Linked DNA regions of Homo sapiens: region 2 is linked to region 1. Evidence: fine-mapped expression QTL. A gene starts in region 1. The other region holds a variant in brackets. All regions are shown on one strand. Distances are from middle to middle.

Region 1 (8,337 bases):
TATAGTTCAAACCTGAGTGTTCTATATTTGCTATCTCTTCACCCTTACCACCCATCCCAGTCTTTACTACTTCACATCATGTTCTCTATGTGTGTGTTTGTGTGTGTGTGCGCGCACATGCACGGACCTGCATGCGCAGGTGCGTGTGTGCATGCAAAAATAAATTGTCACAAATTTTTTGTTTTTTGTTTTTGGAGATGGGGTTTTTCTCTTGTCACCCAGGCTGGAGTGCAGTGGCACCACTACAGCTCACTGCAGCCTCAAACTCATGGGCTTAATTGATCCTCCCACCTCAGCTTCCCAAGTAGCTGGGACTACACATATGCATCACCTTGCCTAATTTTTTCATTTTTTGTAGAAACGGGGTCTCCCTATGTTGTCCAGGCTTGTCTCAAACTTCTAGGCTCAAAGGATCCTCTTGCCTTGGACTCCCAAAGTATTGGGATTACAAGCATGAGCCACCTCGCTTGGCTGTAATCACTTCAACTGAAAACAACCAATTAACATTTAACCCATTCAATACAACTATTCTCAATTGTTTTGGATCAATTTGAAACTCTGCTAAAGAGATATCAGTAACCTAAATTAGTAACCTAGATGCTTTAATTTCTGAATGATTAACTTACTCTGGCAGAATGTTGTGGAATTTTGCCTCTCCTCCTTCTGGAATGAGAGGCCAGGATTTACTTAAACTTCCAACCTGGCCCCTGCACTGCATTGTTTAACCCAAGCATGCTCAGGTGAAGTCCAAGCTTCTCAGGATGGCCTGCAGGGCCTTCCACCCCAGCCGGCTCTCAGTTTCCCCTGACACACTTTACAATATGGCAATATTAAACTACTAAAGGTCTTGGGACTACACACAGTGTTCCATGCCTCTGGGCCCTTGCGTTACTTTGTGTCACCTGTCACCTCCCCCTATTCACCTGGTTGACTCCAAGCATCCTTGAGGACCCAGCTCAGGCACCTCCTTTTCTAGGAAGTTGTTCACTATAATAATCAGGGTGTTGCCCCGATGCCATCATACAGCTCATATTCAGTGCACAGTCAGTATTTGTTGAGGGAGAGAAGAAAGCAGGGGGGAAATACTCTACTTAATCATTTAGAAGGGTTGCCTCAGGCAACCAGAATTCAAAGGCAGGAATAGTGCTATACCGCTAGCCATAAAATGGACCCACGCAAAAATACACTTTGAAGTAGAAAGACTATAAAAGGAATGAAGATCAGAATAGCAACAAGAGCAATATCTTAGATTTGTGTGATTTTACAATTTATAAATTATTGTTAGAACTCATCATGTTTACAGCACAGTGAGGTGGGTGCTGGTATTCTCATTTACAGATAAGGAGACCAGGGATCAGGGAAGGATTTGCTTACCCCTAAGGGCCTGCAGTGACAGAAAGATCCTTTGGCTCTCTATTTGGTTCCTACCGCACCATTTCACAGCTTGCCTAAAATGAGACAAATTGTAAGATATTAATAAGAATTCACTTTCAAAATTCTATATACTTGCTGCTCTATTTTAAACATATATTTCTCTTAAATTATGCTATGCTAATTAGCTCTACCATTTCCAGACAGTAATCTGTTATTGGGTGCTACTTTTTAAATTTAGATGCCACTACTAAATCCTAATTTAGACTCATTCCTTTTAATAACATCTATGCCTTCTAATGTGTTCCACCCTCCATTGCTTCAAAACATGAGAGTTTATAATGTGTTATATTCATTCCATTATATGGATAGAACTCTACCTTCAGGAAATTCTAGTTTAGCTCTTCATTTTAAAGACATTCCTTGCACATATATTTGGGATCCTTACCTTGATGCTTTTTCTGTCTCCTTTGATAAATTCCTCCTTTGTCACACTGCACTGTTTCTCTGAGGTCTTGTATTAGAATAGCCCCTTAAGAATAAGGAACTGTTGTAAATTGCTTTGTAAACAGGTTGCCAGCCAACTCCAAAATGTATTTCCTGTCTTCTCTTTTCACCCAAGTGGGTAATAACTGTGTTGTAACCTGGAGACAGTCAGTAGTTACTAACCACCTAGTATGTCAAATTACCAGGTAAGGTTATCCAGCAAAAGGGGCTCACTGCACTAGAAGCCAACACTATGACACCAAGTTTTTGAGAAAAGGAAAGCTTCACATTGCAAGTTAACTTCTGAGGAAACAAAAGTCCAGTTCAAATCTGTCTTGTACTGGCTTTAGGGCAGTAATTTTATTACAAAAGGTTTAGGGTTGGATCCTGGGGTTAGCAGGTGATTGGTGGAAGCAAAGGGAACATCTGGGAAGTCTTCAGGCATGCATGGCTCTCTCTTCATGCTTCCTGGTGGGTCCCATGTGCAAATTTGGAGGGAGTTGGTATGAAACATGCAGTAGAAATTCAGGCTGTGACATCAGCAAGCTTGCTGTGCGCAAACTGCATTTGGCCATATTGATTCCGGCTGATTTCAGTCAGTTTTGTTATAAGCAGAGGGAGTTTCAGCAAATTGTTTCTTTTCTTATCTGCCCCTGAAAACAAGAATTTCTGTTAGTTATTGGTGTCTTTGACTCTTTGAAACAGTTTCAGTAGTTCCCAAGATATGAAGATAAAAGACCCCCTTCATCAGTGAAAACTCTTACAAGGGGATGAAAGACACAGCTTCCTCTATGAGAGCACAAGAACAATTAAATTGACCCTCACAAACACTATGGTTGGTGCCAGGAACGTGGCCTGGTGAGGAGGACAGTGTCACATCCTCCCTGCCCACTCCTGTTTCCACGCGTGCATTTCCTCTTCTGCCCCTCTCCTAAGCCAGGATGACCCTTCTGACCGCGTGGAACTATCACAGAAACTGCTTCCATTTATACCAGATGACTTGGGATTCAGTCTTCTTGCTTGGTTTTTATTGACTGCAAAAATCCATGACAACTTTGCGCACATTTGCTTAAGCTGAAAGCAAATGGATGAAAGTTTGTAGTTGAAAATCTACTTTCTCTTCAATCTCTTCCCTTTTTGCTTTTCTTAGGAAACATACAAGACAGTGGTCCGGAAAGCTCACTGCAAGAACTGTACAAATAATGTAAAAGTAAGGCATCCATAAGATCAAAGCCACATTTCTTTGCTCTCTGCACCCCATTCCCGCGCCGGCCAGGTTAAGCCTCCTGCGTGGCCAGCACCCCTTGGCAGGGGCAGAACTCCCTGGAACCCGATCCTTGTCTCCATGGCGACGCGTCACAAAGCAGCCCGCGGCTCCCGCAAGCGCTGAGATAGCTGGAGCCAGGGCCCCGCGGCCGCCTCCTGGGGCAGAATGGAACAGCCTGGGCCCAGGGCTCCGGATCCCTCTCTCTGCCACCACAACCTCCAGCCAAGTAAGACAGCAGACTCTGCCGGTCTGCGGGGCGGGGCTGGGGTCTTTCCCGGGGAAAGGGTCCTGTTGAGAAAAAGGGGCCTTAGTATTTAAGGGTGTGGCATCGCTCTTAGGAGTATGCTCAACTGAGGAAAAGACGGGGAGTCAGGGAGAATGACAGGGCCTTCATGACGCTGCCCCTTTTCAGTCCTTCGCATAACCTTTGCCAAATCCCCGCTCCCTAAAACGCGCAGGGTTTTTAAACACTCGAGGAAGTGCCTGGCTAAGAGGGGACAGGAAAAAAGGAAGAACTGGTGATTTTCCAAGGAAAACAGGGCCAAAGGCAAAGAAGAAAGAGAAGTCCTGGAAGCTCTGAAGAGAACAGGTCCTGCCTGAGTCCCGATCCCCATATAGGATCTTGGAAACAGCAAGGAAAGTGGGGGAAGGGTTGGCTGCTGAATGGAGTCCCAGCTGTGTCTGCAGAGGCAGACGCCCTCCCTGGGCTGTCGCACCAGGCTGGGAGCCATGGCCTTCAGCTGCCGCCTCTAACCTGAATTGATTTTTCTTCCACAGAGATTTTGTATTTCACAGAGGTAGTGCTTTTCATCCTAATTCTGCCCACAGATGCAGCAGGTTCACCAGTTCAGCCTTTTGGGTCTGTGGAGGGAGAACCACTCTAGCTGTGACGCTAGTGGCATGATTACCGTGTAGTCAGCTCCATCATAGTCTCTTGTGGCAATAATTGGCCATTGCTGCTGTATAGTTGGGTAACTGTGATTCCACAGTGGCTATGGAGCAGTGAAGGATTGTTCAAGTACAAATTCCCTAGAATTGTGCTCCCAAAAGAGTGAATGAAATGCATATTTTCATTCCAATTCATTCCGTTGTAAATTAAGAATGGAAAATGAAAATACTTAATTAGTGCAGAAAATATCTAATACACTCAGTTTCTATATGATGGGAAGGCAAACAGGAGAGACAGAGGAGGGAGGATCCCCTCCTAGCATCCCGACAGCACCCCTTTGGATGCTTCTCTTCCCTTTCTAACCACCCTGTTTTCCCACTGTCTCCCCATTTCATCCCCTTCTTGTCTGGGAACTGTTGGAGTCCCCCAGGATTGATCCTTCTAGGCTTACCTTCTCTTTGTGACCATATCCTGCACAGGGCTTCAAGTGCTGCATAAAGGTGCCAACAACTCTCTAACCTTTATCTCTGACTTGGACTTTCTTCCTACTTTTTCAGACCAGAATATCTAACTGTCTACCAGACAGTTCCATGTGGGTGTCACAGCAGGGCCTCCAACTTGACATGTGCAAAATCACACTCCTTGTCCTCCTCAAACCTTCCAGACTTTGAGAGTTCAGTTAAGAGGGTCCTAGCTGCTCAATTTAGAAGGGAAGGCAGCTTCCTTGAGACTGCAGTTTGATCACCAGGTCTCTTTGATTCTGCCTCCAAAGCTCTTTTTCCCCCAGGTGAATTCGCCCCTTTACCTCCAGGCTTGGGCCTCTAATGGCTACTCTGTGCCACTTCATTCCCCACTGCTGGGAGAGTCACCCTCCAAATGGTAGGCTTGATGTGTCCCCACTGCCCAGGTTTGGTCCGAAATAGGATGAGGTTGATGGTGACTGATGACTAACTGTTATTGAATAATTACTACAGATGGGGCTCTCAGGTGTTGTATTAGTTTCCTGTGGCTGCTATGTGTTCCCACAGACTGGTGGATTCAAACAACAAAAATGTATTTGCTCACAGCTCTGAAGGTCGAGAGCCTGAAATCAAGGTCTGGACAAGTCTGCACTCCCTCTACAGGCCCTAGGGGAGAAGTGGTCCTTACGTCTTCCAGCTTCAGGTAGCCATCGGCACTGCTAGTGATGGCAGTGGCTGCTGCCATCATGCTGGCTGCAGCAGGGAAGCACAGCTGGGGCTGCAACACTCCATGGAGCCCGTGGGAGCTGCCCCTTCTGAGTTGGGATGGGAGCTCCCTGTGCCGCTACAGCCGCCCAAACTGCAGCTACAGACCCAGGCCTCCTGCTCTATGGAGCAAGCAGGAGCCCTGCAGTCCTGGGCGAGGCTACAGCCACCCAAACTGCGGCTGTGGGTCTGAGCCTCCCTGTGCCTCTGAGCCTCCCTGTGGAACCCACGGCTGCAGACCTGGGCCTTTCACTCCATGAAGCAGGCAGGAGCCAGGGACAAGTGGGAGCTTTGCCTCTTCCAAGTTGGTGGGGCAAGAGCTCCCTGGTGCAGCTGCAGCTGCCCTCCCAGGCACAGGACCTGGGCATCTCTGCAGCCTGCACCCTTGGACTCCCCAGGAAGGACACCCTTCACCCATCCATCCCTGCAGGCTCAGGGGTATCTGATCCCACTGCCAGGCAATACCCCACCCACATCCCTGCAGGCTAAAGGGTATCTGCTCCCACTGCCTGGCCTCTCTCCACTGGCTCTGATCTCAGAGTGGGGTTGGGACCAAGCCCCAGGGCTGTGAATGGCAGCAGGAGGCAGACAGAGTCCTGGGTGGAAGGGGCTGGGGTCCCCAGTAAGGCCCCACCCTCTGACCAGGGAGGGCCTGAAGTCTGGGGACCAGGCTGCCAGTCAGGAATCTGAGTGGGGACTCATGCTGCCTCCTCCAGCCTGCGCATGGCCACCCATGGACCAATCAGCATGCACTTCCTTCCCTCTGAAGTCCATAAAAACCCTGGGCTCAGCCAGAGCAGGGAAGAGGACAGCAGCCAGAGAATGAAGAGGGCAGGGAGAGACAAGGGAACCCCCCGCTGTAGAGGAGTATGCTCTCTGCTGATAGCTGGAGATGATGGGGCAACTAGCTGCAGAAAGGAAGGAGTACCCTCTCGACTGCCGACAGACAGGAGCTACGCTCTCTGCTGAGAGCTTCAGAGACCTGCAGAGATCTCTGAATGACTTGCCTATGGAGAGGAGCTACGCTGCCTAGGGCCTCCTCTCTACTGACAGCTGAACACTTGACCGGATGACCTGCCTACAGAGAGAAGCTACCCACTCCTCCGAGCTGTTCTAACACTAAAACTCTTCTTCACTCTTCACTTGTCTGTGTACCTCAATGCGGGACAAAAACTCTGGCAAAGGCACTGCAGCCACAGAGTTTTCCAGCCAGAAAAATCAACACCCCAGAGATCCTGTAATGCTAGCTTGTGGCCTCATTACTCCAGGTCTCTGTCTCTGTCTTATAAGCACACTTGTAATTGCATTTAGGGTACACGAGGATAATCCAGGATGATTTCCTAATCTCGAAATCTTTAATTGCGTGTGCAAAGACCCCTTTTCCCAATAAAGTAAGATTCACAGGTTTTGGGGATTAGGACATGGAAATATCTTTTTTGTAGTGTCACCATGTGGCACACTACAAGCAACTTACATATATCAATACCTTGAATCCTCAAAACAAAGTGAGGGAATAAAATAATATATGTGAAAATATTTTGTAAAGTATAATAGAATATACATGTTACTACTTTATAATATTTTTTAAGCTTTATATTTTCCTAATGGTGAACACATCCAGTGGATTGTCAAGGTTAGCAGAATGAGGCTTTAGGATGCTTTGCTGACCTGTCATTAGCCATCTTTCCCTTTGCTCCATTCACATGGGGCTATTTGTTGTGTCTCATCTCAGACTCTCATACCTCATGCTACTTCCTCTGTAAATTGTTTTACTTCATGTCCTGTGCTTCTCTTTCAAACATCTACTAAATTAAATCACAGCTCAGATGCCACCTATGCTATGATGACCCCTGGGCCTGCCCTTGCTGCCGCATCTTCTCATCCAAGCAAAAAGAATTGCACCCTCTTCATGTTCCCTGTGACACATAGGACATCAGCACCACATTAAACTTGTGCTCATAGGATACATAGCTCATCTCTTGGCCTGTGAGTTCTCCAAGGCCAGGTCAAGACTCTGTGTCCCAGTGCTCCACAGGGCTGGGTCCACGGGAGGGCTTGGGGACTTCTTTGAAGGAGGAACAGAAAATGAGAGAAGAAAGAATTAGGAAGACGTAATCACAGGAAAGATGGATATGAGCTACACAAAAGGACATTGAGATACTGAGAAGAAAGTAGTGACTTGCAGAGAACATACTAGGAACAGATTTTCAGAATATTGTGATTACAGATTTCTCAATGAACATTTCTGTTAATGAAGAAAATTAATTCCAATGGCATACTGTACTTTCAGAAGCTTTGTCAATGGAGGTAAAAAGCATAGAAATACAGCCCTTACAAAAAGAGTTGTAGTAAGGGAAATCATTAACATGAAATTAAAGGAAGATGTACCAAAGATCAAGTGTGCATCCAAGCAGGTTAGGATTAGGGAGTGGAGGGTGTGCCTGATCTGTACAAAGGTAACAATGGAAGAGGGAGGCTCTCATGGCCTCAGTTCCTGGAAACAGTAAGGCATGCTGCTCTTGTCCGTCAGACTCCTGATCCAGGCACCTGGCAATTGGTGACCCCAGCTGCCAAACTATCTTCAGAAGGGATAGGACCCTAGATGGGCGGGAACACAGAGGGGCGTGTCGTGCTTGCCCACATGATTGATTGGGAGGTGCTGCCTGGAGTGCTGTTCTGCCAGGCTTTTTGAGGCATATCTGAGCCTAATAGAAATGTGATCTGGACTGTTAGAGTTGTTTGCCTTAGAAAAAACAGGGAAAATTTATGTGTGGCTTTTGTGCAGAATATCCTTCCTGATTGTTCCGAAAGTCCAATGCCGAAGTTCAAATCAGGTTAGAGAAGGCTTCTTTTACGAGTGGCATGCCTCACAATTTCTTCCCTTTTACTTGTTCATACTTGTAATTCTTTTAACAAAGAACATTGAATTCTGCTATTGGGATAAAATGCTTTCAAGCATAAAGCGATGCCCACTAAAGAAGGAGTATTGGAGAATGATGTCATTTCTTGTAGAGCAGGATTAGAGAGCAGACACTAGGAGTGCATAGAAGCACAGTTACAGAGTGGGGAATACAAGGGGCTAAGGCTTCAGTTATCTG
Region 2 (8,337 bases), 23 kb after region 1:
ACTTCAAGAGGAATCAAGAGCCACAAATCTCATCTCAATGAAGTAAGATAATATCTACATATGTGTTGAATTTAATACTGTACTGTATCAACAACTCATAAGAATGAGAGTTTAAATATGTCACAAAGATCTCTCAGCTTCTACAGTCACAGGATACATGGTTCTTTTTAGACTATTTCCTGTCTACCTTCTCACATTTATTTCTAACCTCTTGTGTTCTATCCCCTGGAGTTTTTTTTAAAAAAGGACTTTTTAAAAATTGAAGTGAAATTTACGTAATATAAAATTAACCTTTTAAAGTGAACAATTCACTGGCATTTAGTACATACATGCTGTTGGACAGCCATCACCTTTATTTTTGTTCCAAACCATTTTCATCATCCTAGAAGGAGACCTCATACCCATTAAGCAATTACCCCCGACTCCACTCCCCACCGTCTGCTTTCTATGTCCGTGGATTACCTTTTGTGGATATTTTACATGTGGAATCAATAATAGGTGACCTTTTGTGTCTGGCTTCTTTTCACTTAGCATAATGTTTTCAAGGTTCATCATCTAAGAAATTATCTGACTAGAAAGAAGACAGGAAAAGCACTATTATGAAGACTACCCATGTAGCATCCGTGTAGCAAATATCAGTACTTCCAGTCTTTGTCACAGTTGAATAATATTCTCTTCCGCGGATAAACCACAGTTTGTCTGTGTGTGCATCCATTAATGCATCTTTGGATTGTTTCCACCTTTTGGCTATTGTGAATTGTGCAGCTATGAACAGCCATGTACAAGTACTTGTGCTTAGCCTTGTGTTTCATACGCTCTCAAACCTCCATTTTTTAAATCATTCTGTTGCCTCTACCTAGAATGCCCTTATCCTGTGCATGAAGGGAACTCCTATATTTCTTCAAGACTCACATTAAAGAAAGCCATCTCTAAGTTCCTTCTCCCCTGGGTGGAAATAGCTGATTCTCCGTGTGTGTTTTCTTGTCTTTCTATTCCCTTCTCCCATCACAAAAGGTAATGCTTTGTTGTAGTAAAGGGTTTCATTTGCTTGACTGCCACATGGGATGGGACAACCTGGGATGGAGCCACCTTGATGCATTCAATAGATGATAAAGTGGTAGAATGAACAGGATTTGATGACTAAAAGGATGCAAAGGATAAGGAAGAGGAAAGTATAATGTTCAACTTCTGACTTGGACAGCTGGTGTATGCAGATTCTGTTTACTCAGCTGGAACATGGTGGAGGACCAGGTTGGGTGGAGAAGGGCATTGGGGGAACATGTAGTTTCAGTTGAAGACATGTTGGTTGAAGATGTGTCCAACAGGCAGTTTAATAGACAGGTCTGGAGCTCTTGGGGGAGAGATGAGCTGGACATATGGACTTGGAAGTCATTAGAATGTATACATATAGCTGATTAAATTTGGTTCCTTGTGATATCCATTCATTGTAATGTATTCAACCCTGAAAAAAAATATATATATTTATAGACCTATACACACACACACACACACACACACACACACACACACACACACATATATGTATGTATATATCTCTTGGAGATATACACATAAAACTCCTGTCTCTAAAAATATATATATCTAAATTATATATTTAATATATAATTTATATATAATATAAAAATATGTCTCTAACATATGTATTATTATGTATAATTAGATATATTACAGACAAGATCTTGCTTTGTGGCCCAGGGTGAAGTGCAGTGGCACAATCAATCAGAGGTCACTACAGCCTCGAACTCTTGAACTCAAGTGATGCTCCCACCTCACCCTCCAGAGTAGCTTAAAGTACAGGTGCATGCCACCATGCCCAGCTAATTTTTTATTTTTTGTAGAGATAGAATCTCACTCTGTTTCCCAGGCTGGTCTCAAACTCCTGGGTTCAAGCAATCCTTTCACCCTGGCCTTCCAAAGCCCTGGGATTACAGCCGTGAGACACTATGCTTGGTCATCCTTTATATTTTAAAATTAATGTAGAAGAGTTGATTACAATATTATACTGTATGTATACAATATTATACTGTATTTATACATTCACAAACACACGACCATATAATTTTCCCTTCCTCTAAGTACTATTGAAGGCTCTCAACCAATGAGAGCTAGTGTGGCTGACTGTCCTGCGTGTTCTCAGCCAATGAGTGTTCACATGCCAGATGGCAGCTCCTATTATTCTAGGTATTGAATATCAACAACTGCTAACGTTACACAAGAAAAACAACGATGTATTATCTGCCTCCTACAGCCTTGTGAAACACCATTTATTCAGGGGTGTCTAATCTTTTGGCTTCCCTGGGCCACAGTGGAAGAAGAATTGCTTTGGGCCACACATAAAATACACTAACACTAATGATAGCTGATGAGCTTTAAAAAATGAAATCGCAAAAATATCTCATAATGTTTTAAATAAGTTTATGAATTTGTGTTGGGCCACATTCAAAGCCATCCTGGGTGGGGCCACAGGTTGGACAAGCTTGACTTCTAGTTTAGTGAATTTGAGTCTCTGGATACACCTGCCAATTTGCAGGAAATACAGGGGACAGAGGAACTTGTTAAACAACAAATGCATACGCAATCAACAAAATCCAGACTTTGGGACCTCTGCACAGCAAATGGCTTCTTCAATAGATAAATCATAATTTTATGTATTGGTTTTTCCAGTTGATAGATTGTGAGGGAAAGAAGGGAATCAAGAGAGAACTTGAAAATTAAAAGAGGTTTAAAAGGCAAGTTTGGGACAGCGAGTATACCTAACTATTTTGAAGAATTTTGGTGCAAAGGGAAACTGAGGAATAGCTTAGTAACTAGAAGGGGAAGTACAGTGAAGAGAGTGCTTTCTTTTTAAGATAGGAGAAATAAACGCATTCTTTGATACAGATGGCAATGATCCAGCAGAGAGGAAGAGATTCAAGTTGCAAGAGAGAAGTAAGGACTGTTGGAGCGATTTGCTGGAGTAGACTCAGTAGAGAGGGATCTAGTGCTGCAGGCGGGGCTGGGCCTTGCTGAGGGCACCTGCGCGGCTCCCCTCCCGTCACAGCATGTGTGAGTGCAGGTGCGGTGGCTGGGACACGGTTGGTGGGCTGTGGAGGTTATTTTCTGGTGGCTTCAATTTTCTCAGGGAAATAGGAAGCAAGATCATGGGAAAGAGGGACGATGGCAAGAGGGGGTGAAGATTTCAAGTTTTATCATCCTAAAATCTCTCTTTTTTAATTTTATTATTATTATACTTTAAGTTTTAGGGTACATGTGCACAACGTGCAAGTTTGTTACATATGTATACATGTGCCATGTTGGTGTGCTGCACCCATTAACTAGTCATTTAGCATTAGGTATATATCCTAATGCTATCCCTCCCCCCTCCCCCCACCCCACAACAGGCCCCGGTGTGTGATGTTCCCCTTCCTGTGTCCATGTGTTCTCATTGTTCAATTCCCACCTATGAGTGAGAACATGCGGTGTTTGGTTTTTTGTCCTTGCAATAGTTTGCTGAGAATGATGGTTTCCAGCTTCATCCATGTCCCTACAAAGGACATGAACTCATCATTTTTTATGGCTGCATAGTATTCCATGGTGTATATGTGCCACATTTTCTTAATCCAGTCTATCATTGTTGGACATTTGGAGGTGACAAGAGAGTGCTGGCCATTCCTGTCCTTCAGCAAGTTGCTGAGGCCTCTGCATGTAAGGCAGAGTTTTCCTCAGGGGCTCCCAAGGGGAAAGCAGCTACTGCCTGTGCTCCTTGGGAATGGCCAGAACTAGAATTAACATGGGTTATTTCTTCCCTTAGTCTTATCTGTAGGAGACTTCTGGTTGGAAGCACAACTCTTTGAAGTTTTCAATCTCATTTTCTCATTTTCAATGTGAAAAGTCAAAGAAATGTACAGAGCCCGCGTTTCGACTGGGTCAACCAATGTCTCCTGTTGACGGGCTCCCAGCATCCATGCACCTGCAGTGGCAGCTGGTTGTAAAGGATTCTGAAGAATATGTGCACACAGACACTCAGATTATTGATCCTATTGGGTGAACCCATATGGATTTTCTTGAAAATTATGTTTGCTTTGATA[G/A]GACATTTTCCTGTGGACACTACCTCACTGTCAACAAACGGGGACACTAAAGAACTGCCTCCCTTGGAAAATCCCGGCTTCAATGAAAGAAGTTAACAAGGCACTATCAAATCAGTTTATTTCCCTTACTAAGAGAGACTTTGTGGACAGATCAAAAGGTAAACACTTTTGTTTTTCTTTTTTTCCTGGGTCATGTGGTAGGCCCTGGAGTTGCAGTGGTCGGCAGCATGCGTGTGTTCTTCTCCTTCAAGGAACTTGAAGTCTAGGCATGGAGACAGGCGACTTTGCAAATAAAAACCATCAAGTATAAAAAGGTGCACCTTGTGGGAAATGCAGGTTGCTGTGGGCATACAGGAAGACATCCAGCTTAGTGTGGGATAGGGGGTCAGGAAAGGCTTCCCTGCCTGGCCCAAAGGATGAAGAGGAATTAGCCAGGCAAAGAGGTAGGGGAGAGTGTTGTTACAGGATTGAAGACCTGCAGGAACATTTCAGGAACTAAAAGAACTTCAGCAAGAGTAGAGCATCAAGGGCAAAGGGAGGGTTGAGGGAGGAGATCAACGTGGGCAGAGAACACCCAGTCTGGAAGGGCATTACAGGGCATACTAAAGAGTTTGGAGTTCATCCCAGAAGCAATTAAGAGGTTTTTATTAAGGTAGTGACACAATTCAGATGTCGACTTTTAGAAGCCTCACACTGGCTGCAGAGTGAAGAATGGAGATGGCCCTTCAGGAAGAAGGTGGACAGGAGGAGGCTGTTAGGGGAGCGCAGAGAGGAGTGAGGTGGCTTGACACAGGGCTGTGGCAGTGCGGATGGAGGCAGGATCTGCAAGGTGGTGGCATGGGCACTTCAGTCAGCAATAAGCCCCTTCCAGGGTAGGGGCTGTGGCTTTTGGCTCACATTGTCTCACCAGCACCCACCCCAGTGCCTGGCTTATCACAGGTGATGAAAATAAATATTGGTTGAACAAATAAATGAATGATAGGGATGAGTGACTGACAGATGTCAGAGATACGGGAGTAATAGGAGTCTGCCTTGGAGTTCCTTGTGGATGGGATGCTGGTGTCTTCTGTAGGTAAGTAGGAAACCATGAGAGGATGAAGTGAGGGCCATTTTATTCTCTCCTTTGTTAGAGATGAAAAGTCCAGCACACTATTCATCCTGCTTCCTGGAAGAGCACATGTGTCCTGGGATGGGAACTCTGCTATGCAGATTCCCCTGTGAGAATCTAGATTCTCTCATGCTTCACCTGGCTCTGCCCTTAGGGCTCTGTGGCTGGGAACACCTTTGACTGTTTTTTTGTAGGGTAAGTAGAGATGACATCATAGCTTCCATGTCTCAGGGGGTCAAAAATGAGTTCCATCTATACCAACACATTTTCCAGAAATGACATATTTGGTGATTCAATGCAATTTTGGTCTTGCTTATCAGCAGGAAATTTACTTTATTGAGAATTCATGAAAATTGATTATATTTTTAGACGCACAGACGGAAATCTTTTCCTAAGTTACTGAGAAAGCCACACACGCTGGTGCATGGCTCTAAGCCCTGTGACACAATGGCAGTTGGAGTATTGGTGTTCTCCTGCTTTTTGGTGACAAAATAATGACACCCAGTGACTGCTGAGGAAGGCTGGCTGCCCTGTGGGCTCTGAACACAAGCCAGGGAGTGCTGAGGGCCCCTGTTCACCCGAGGACAGGAGAATGACACATCTCTCAAGGTCTGGGTGTCTCCATCTTCATCCTACATCCCTTTTCCTGCCCCAACAGAACCATCAATCCCTGTGAGCTGTGGATCTGTCTCCCTGTCCCCTGAACAAGAACTTTATCTTTCCAGTTCTCTGGCCTTTTCTCCAACATCATCCCTCCATCTCTAAAGTATTAATCCCACCCCACCGGCATGCACATTGACTGTAGTATATCCCGTCTAGCATGTTCCAGATGAAAACAAAAACAGAGCTTTCCCTCAACCCCATCTCTTCTTTTAGCTACTGTTCATTTCTCTGCTTCCCTTCATAAACAGCCAATGTTTACTAAGCCCTTAGCTTTTCATAAATTAACACAGTTAATTTTCACAACCTGTGAAGTTATTACCGCCAATCAAAGAGGGGGATCTAAAACTCAGTGTGGTTAAGCAACATGCCCAGGGTTGCCCAGCTCAGGACTGGTGGTGTCTAGGATTTGAACCCAGGCAGTCTGGCTTCTCTTATTAGAACTACCTCCTTCCCAGCTAAAATTCCTTCAAGAGTCAGTTTATACATGGTATTCTGAATTCCTAACTTCTTGTTTACAGTTTTTAAACATTAAAATTTACTTTTATTAAACAAATGTATGCATATACTTAAATGATTACTTACAGGCATATAAAGAAACAACAGTAGTTCCTTGACCTACCCCGCCCCATCCCTACTCTTATTCCTCATTGGCAGTCAATTTCAATCTGGTTAACTATTTCTTCTTATGTGATTTTTAAATAATTTGCTTCTACTGCTCCTCTTCATTCATGAATTTTAGACGTTATTGACTTCTGTTTTGGAAGCTGAGGATTTGGCTATCCTATAACTCTGTCTCACTGGCCCTCCATCCATCATGTCAATATAATTATATTACAGATTTCTTGTTAAATTCAATTGCTAGTGTATATATTATGATATGACATACTGTGATTACATGAGTACGTAAATGTTTGCTGCTGAGCCAAGTTGTATTTCATTATTTCCTTTGCTTGTTGTTTTCTCTTATTTTTACCAGAATTAATTGTTTTTCTCTACGTGTTTACTTTTCTACATGCCTGTCACTATTTTTTTCCATACTTTGTTGTACACTTACCAAAATTTTTTCCAAACACAATGACAGAATAGAACAGAGAAAAGAGAGGAGAGAAAAATATTAAAGGAGTAATGCAGGAAAAAATTCTCAGAGTTTCTAGATTGAAAGGGCCCCTGAATGCCTGACATAACGAATGACAAAAGACTGTCACTAATGCATGTAAGTGTGGAATTTCAGAATGTCAGGAATAAAGAGATCTTAAGTGTTTCCAGGGGGTTGACATAAAAAAGATCAGAAATTAAAATGTCATCTGTCTTCTACATAGAAATCCTGGATGCTAGAAGACATTTGGAAAAATGTGTTGAAGGGAAGTGATTTCCAACCTAAAATTCTATATCCAGCCAAACTATCAAGCAAGTCTAATGAAGAAAAAAAGACATTTCCAGATTGACAAGAATATACTTTCAAAAGTTCCTCCAACACACCCTTTCTTAGGAAGCTACTGGATAGTTGGATCGAGCCTTAAATTATCTTACCTTTTCTCTCCTAGCTTCTTTCTCTTTGTATTTTTGTTCTGTTTATTTGAAAACTTCTATACCTTTTTTGTTTTGTCTGTTTGTTTGTTTTTCATGGAGACAGAATCTCCACCAGGCTGGAGTGCAGTTGTGTGATCTTGGCTCACTGCAGCCTCTGCCTCCCAGATTCAAGCAATTCTCATGCCTTAGCCTCCTGAGTAGCTGAGACTGCAGGCATGCACCACCACGTCCGGCTAATTTGTTTGTATTTTTAGTAGAGTCAGGATTTCACCATGTTGCCCAGGCTGGTCTTGAACTCCTGAGGTCAGGCAATCCACCCACCTCAGCCTCCCAAAGTGCTAGGATTACAGATATGAGCCACCATGCCTGGCTGAAAACTTCTTTACTTTTTAATCTAGCTCTTCATTAAATTTTATTACAGGTCTCATATTTTTAATTTCTAAGCTCTCTTTCTTCCTCCCTCCAATTATTTTTTAAAAACAGCATTCTGCTCTTATTTTATAATGCAGTAATTCTCATGAATTTTAAGATATTTATGATATAATTAACTTTCAGCATTTTCATCTGTTTCTTGCATTGTTTCCATTTTTCTCTGAGTGTCTTAATGGTCTAATGAAAATTTGATTGTCCATATTTGCAAGGGAGCAGAGGCCGATTCATTATAAAGCTAATAAAACTCAAGTTTCACTTTTGTGGACTCTTCTTTTTCTTAAAGTGGGTGCACACAAAATATTAAACTCCAAGGCTCAAAAACCTACAAAGGAGGTATCAAATATAATTAAAAACTGTGTACAAAGAAGGGACTTGTTAGCTGGTACTTGACTTAGGTGATTAGAGGATGAGCTATCTTTCTTGGGGGAAATCCCTAAATGCCATTATTTGTGGATCAGTCTCTCCAGAGAGGTAATTCTGACTGCTGGCATTCTGAGAGCAGGAGTGGAGAAGCAA

Direction of the effects. Alleles are on the strand shown, and positions count from the first base shown. SD is a standard deviation of normalised expression in the study named.
In carriers of allele G in region 2, the expression in testis of the gene that starts at base 3,230 in region 1 tends to be higher than with A alone (moderate effect, 0.43 SD a copy in GTEx).

The links. PIP is the estimated chance that this variant, and not a neighbour inherited with it, causes the effect. A credible set is the group of variants that fine-mapping cannot tell apart.
Region 2: its variant is the best candidate, but not a certain one, in a credible set for the expression of TEX26 in testis (GTEx, PIP 0.85).

The regions. Positions count from the first base shown.
Region 1 is chr13:30,929,427-30,937,763 of GRCh38, forward strand. TEX26 (testis expressed 26) reads left to right here and starts at 3,230. Exons shown (of 7, transcript NM_152325.3): 1 at 3,230-3,350. The coding sequence starts at 3,290. It overlaps TEX26-AS1 (TEX26 antisense RNA 1), which reads right to left and starts at 3,182. Exons shown (of 4, transcript NR_038287.1): 1 at 1,820-3,182; 2 at 1,375-1,448.
Region 2 is chr13:30,952,784-30,961,120 of GRCh38, forward strand. It overlaps TEX26 (testis expressed 26), which reads left to right. Exons shown (of 7, transcript NM_152325.3): 3 at 1-42; 4 at 4,090-4,246. Among named protein-coding and RNA genes, the nearest start is that of TEX26-AS2, 21 kb to the right of the region's middle. The variant G/A (reference allele first, on the strand shown) is at 4,089.